2 separate regions of the Homo sapiens genome follow, and region 2 is linked to region 1. The links come from fine-mapping of genetic effects on gene expression. Tissue or cell type: whole blood. Region 1 holds a variant in brackets; the other region holds the start of a gene. All regions are shown on one strand. Distances are from middle to middle.

What was found. PIP is the estimated chance that this variant, and not a neighbour inherited with it, causes the effect.
Region 2: it holds the start of DNAH6, and the variant in region 1 is fine-mapped to the expression of DNAH6 in whole blood (TOPMed, PIP 0.92).

What each region holds. Positions count from the first base shown.
Region 1 is chr2:84,813,142-84,815,641 of GRCh38, forward strand. DNAH6 (dynein axonemal heavy chain 6) reads left to right here. Exons shown (of 77, transcript NM_001370.2): 75 at 830-981. Among named protein-coding and RNA genes, the nearest start is that of TRABD2A, 67 kb to the right of the region's middle. The variant T/C (reference allele first, on the strand shown) is at 1,003.
Region 2 is chr2:84,515,387-84,518,050 of GRCh38, forward strand. DNAH6 (dynein axonemal heavy chain 6) reads left to right here and starts at 1,112. Exons shown (of 77, transcript NM_001370.2): 1 at 1,112-1,197; 2 at 2,433-2,664. The coding sequence starts at 2,441.

The sequences.
Region 1 (2,500 bases):
TTCTAGAAAAACCCCATAGGAATGGCCATGACTTCTCATACACAGGGTTTTGAGGTGCTGGGGAAATGACATGGCTGCTAATGCTCTAGCAATGAGGCTATTGATCATAGGGCAATCTAACAAGGTCGTGCTCTTCCTCACTTGTGGGGGGCAGAGGAAAGATGGCAGAGATAGCAGATGTTCCCCAACAACCTAATCCCTGCCCCTCTCAGGTTACATAAGTGCAGGCACTGCTGCCTCCACAAACACAGAATGTGCCTCAGTTCCCCATATGACCCACGCTCAAGGGCATCAACTGCTGTCCACCTGCTCAGGCCCCAGCTGTGAGCAGCTCCCTTCCCTCTGAGAAATTCTCTTGATGTGCCTCCATCAGCTCTTGGGGAATCTGGCTAGAGAGCCTCAGAGGGGGCTAGAGCCTGTGAGCAACTCAATGCTAATTACCCAAGCCCTTCATCTCTCTCATTCTTAATACCTATTAAACAGCCCATATAAAACAAGCTGGGCAAAATCCTAAAGTTAGCGAGATTGGGCTCTGAAACTGCCTCACTGGTTTGTCTCCCTCATGACAGGGCAATGCACTGAACACTGGCCTTCCCTCCCTTCCCAGCCAGGACCAGAGCTTGTCCATCCCTTGGGCCCTTACCTCCCAACATGACCCGCAGGCTTCCTGACCCTGTGAACTAACTCAGAGGAAGGTATTAAGAGTTGGGTCTTCTCTGTGGTGGGAAGGCTCTCTAATGCCAGGGCAGCCTGGTTTGGATGAAGGGGAATAGTGCCTGGGGAGTAGCAGTGTTGTTTGAACGCAGCTTTCCGATTTTCACAATTACAGGAACTCTTCAAAATCATGCTCGAAAATACAATTTGCCTATAGATGAGCTGAGTTTCAAATACAGCGTAATTCCCACCTATCGGGATCAAGCTGCAGTGATAGAAGCTGCCAAGACAGTGCAATTTGGACAAGAACTGCCCATGGACATGGAGGTATTGTCCACCTGGCTGTTA[T/C]GGCAAAGCAGCTTCTATCCCACTGTCTTTGAAGATTTCAGACAACCTTCCATGCCCCACTCCCCCACCACCTCCCATTGGCAGGAGCAGGAAGGGCAGGGTAGTAATCACACCTCCAAGATAAGCTCCCCAATTAGCAATGACCAGATGGGAACTGCCTAAACTAGTCTAAGTTATAGAAATATTTTTAAAGCAATATTTTTTTTATTTTTTAGCTACCTTTAGTAACCTTCTTCATCTTACAGAATCAATATAGCAAGAAGTTAAAAGCAAGGGTTTAAAAACGAGAGAAGCCTGAGTTTGAATTCTGACACTACCTTTCACCAGCTGCATGTGCTGGAGCAATTGTTAACATGTCTGCACCTCATATTATTTTAAGATCCTTCTTGTCTTAAGAAGAGAGTGTCAACTTTCCCATGTCAGGAAAACTTGAGGCTCCAGGAAGGTAAAGCAACACCCACATAAAAGCCCCCACCGGAGCTTTCCGGGACCAGCCTGCCCTGGTCCATGCTCAGCACACTCCATCTGCCACAGAGGCTGATTCTGACAGACAGAAGTTTACAGTGACCACCAGGGCTCTGTCCCTCCACCCTAGTTCATACCATGTCTCTGCTTGGGTCATGTGCGCTGAGCCATGACAATGCCTTACAATCTCTGAGATCTGGGGAGACTTCAGACTGTCTAACTGGCCTGTCTCCTGGCCCACCTAGCAAATGTCTGCCACCAACAGACCAGGAGACAGGCCAGTAGTGTGGTGTGAAAGAAACAGCCAGTGTCATGTGACCAGCACATATACTGGTCTAAACACAGGGTATGTGTTTAAACAGCTTTATCTCTGTTGCAAACAGGCAAGACCACTGTCAGCCCATTTGCCGCCTTGGCGCAGCATAGGAAAAGGTGCTCCCTCTGGGTGATGCCCAGTTGGTGGACACCCAGTAGGTAGCAGGATAGTTTTCAGGCAAACCTGCATAAACATATGTGCAGCCCAAAAACAGGAAGTCCCATCCTGCTGCACCCAAGAAACAGAAAGGTTAGGACACCAAAAAGCAAAGACCAGCTAAAAAGAATTTAGTTTACCATCCTTTTATTCACTATAAAATGCACTACATATTATCCAAACAGCTTAGTCCTCTGCCTGCAGACGTGAGGCTCCAATTATCCAAAGACCTCGGGCCAGAAATGGCCAAATCCACTCAGGGTTTGAGGAAGGATGACTCAGATGCCCACAATTGGAAAAAAAAAAAAAAAAGTGTGCACCGGTGGAGACATCCAATCACATCACAGGAATCTGATGGGCAGGGTCTCTCCCTCTCCCTCTTTCTTATTTAATACAAACATTTAAAAGTAAGCATAATTTTTAAAAAAGAGAGAAAGAACAAAAAGGAATTGTCCATGGGCACTCTGCAAATATTATTGCAGATATATAATCTGTCTTCTAGGAGGGCATCCAAATCCTTGAAAAACCTTGCTAAGAATAACAGACGATGATCTCAGTACT
Region 2 (2,664 bases), 300 kb before region 1:
TTTCTCTGGGCTTCAGTTCCCTTACAAATCAAATAGGGGAGTTGGACTATGTGACCTGTAATCTCCATTTTAGCTCTATCTGTGATTTAGAGAATCATACTACCATATCAAATACATAACTGAATATGTTAAGATTGAGAAGATGCAGGCTGTGAGTACAATAATGTAAAGAACTTCACATAGAGCAAGAAACAAATATCAAGGTAACAAAGAGCAACCGAAAAGAGCAAAAGAAAATGATGATTATGTCATTTTGGAGACAAGGTTGAAAACCAGAGCTCCTCCATGTGGTGTAAGGATTCATCAAGACAGGTGAAAGGATTTCTTCCCCTGATCAGTAACTGGGATAAGGCATCCCGAGTAAGCAACAGGCCCTGGCCTTCGATGGGGTCGCTCCATACAAAATTAGCAACAGTCACTTGGGAACTTAAGTGAGATTAAACGCCAGAATAAGATCCAGGGTCTGCTTTGGTAGAAGGGGCACGGGAACCAAGTAATACGGGCTCATCCTATGCCTGACACCTAGGTTACCTTCCAAGTGGAAAAGGACATTAGTTGGAAGGCCACAGTGGAGTTTAAGGGAAGAGGAGGCCACATTTCTTGAGCCTTAAGACACTCGGGAGGAGGTTGGCGGGTAGGGCAGGGATGCAGAGTGGTTGCTTCCTTGGAGAGTGGGACCTCATTTGTCTACACAACCCACATTCCTCTCCTGAAATTCTCGACTCTTTCGGATAAATTTCTATTAAAGTGAACGTCAAGTCAGTCTTACGCCTCTTGAAGGAAAACAGAAAAGAAATTCCTGTAAGAGGTTGAGATGGGTGTGAGTGGTCGATAAGCAACGAAGCAAACAGAATTAACCACCTCCTTTGGCTGCTCTGCCTACACCTCCTGGCACAGTACTCAATTCCCAGCGCAGAGGAGGAACCAGGCTGTGCGGCTTCTCCAACAATCAGCGAAGTAGGAAATGTTTCGGAGACACTAATTGGCTCGATTGCCTGGCGCGCTCCTGGACCGAAAGCTGTGGCTGGTTGAGGCGTTGCCTGGCGACGTGTTACTCAGTGGCGCAGTGCTTCCGTAGAGGCCAGCTGGTTGCTACGCAGCAACAGGAAACATTCCGCGCTACCGAGTACTTTCTACTCCCGACCAGGCATTGCTCTCTCTGGAGACCCTCGGCGGTGGTTGCTGTATTTTGACTTGGTGAGTCCTGGGAACCGACCCTCGGGCCTGGGCTCCGATTTCTGGGCCAGAAACAAAGTCTGACTTTCGGAGAACATAAAGGCTCAAAGAGGCAGAGAAAATCAATGGAAAGGCATTTCAGTGATTGTCTGCTATCCGCCCATCATTTTAGAGGGGTGGAAAGTGAGCAATAGCGATATCAAAAGACTTGTCCAAGATCTCACGCTGAGTGGTCAAATCTGGACCTGCGCTGTTAAATACGGTAATCTTTAGACCTCGTGTGGCTAGTCTGAATTGCAATGTGCTCATATGTAAAAAGCACACTGGATTTTGAAGGCGTGGTACCAAAAGACAACATAAGATATCACTATAATTTTTATACTGTGTGTTCAAATGATTATGTTTTGTATATGGTAAATAAAACATATTATTAAAATTAATCTCACCTATTTCTTTTTTAAAAATGCTATTGCTTGAAAATTAAAATTGCATACAAAGCTCTCATATTTCTATTGGCCAGCACTGATCTATATAAAACCTAGGTCTGCCGACACCTGATTCAAGACCTCTTGTGCTAACCCTATTTTGGAAGGTGTTTCGAAGTATCTCCACTCATCTAATGGGGTGAAAGTGTGCGTGGTGGTGCAGAGTGCAAGACCATTACAAAAGGCTCATATTTCTAGTGTTTTAGGACCTTGCTACTCAAAGTGTATGAATCAGAACCTTCATTTTAACAAGCTCTGCAAGTGATTGTCCTGCACGTTAAAGCTCCAGAAGCACTGTGTAAGAAATTAGCCCTCAATTCTTTTTTTTCCCTTTGTTTCTTCTTGAGTACCTATACTGTATTTTTCAGACTGCGTGTACTAGAATTAGCTGCATTTTGAACAAGTTCCGCAGGAGATGAGAAACATTGATCTCAATACTAATTACATTTCCTTTTGTCCTTCCAAATCTAGACCAGTGTGGTCTCCAGATGAGCAGCAGCAGCAGCATCCGCCAAGAACTTGCAAGAAATGCAAATTCCTGGGTTCCACCCTAGCTACAGGGGTTCTTGAAGCCTAGGCACAGTTTCTAATTTTTTATTCCTTTGGTTCAAGTCCTCAGTTCGGGAAGACTGGGGTAACTTTGATGGGTTTTATTTGAGGGAAGTGAGCGAATTCAACTCTTCCTAGTCCTTAAGTCCCTCTCCAGTAGCCTCCTTCCCCAATCCTTTTGATCTACTTTTCATTTTCTTTTTCCTCACCTATTCTTTTCAGGAGTAAGGATGACTTTTCGGGCCACAGATAGTGAATTTGACCTGACAAATATTGAAGAGTATGCCGAAAATTCTGCACTTTCAAGACTGAATAATATAAAAGCCAAACAAAGAGTGAGTTATGTGACATCCACAGAAAATGAATCTGATACACAAATCCTAACGTTTAGGCACATTACAAAAGCTCAGGAGAAGACAAGAAAACGACAGCAGCCTATAAAACTAGAGCCTTT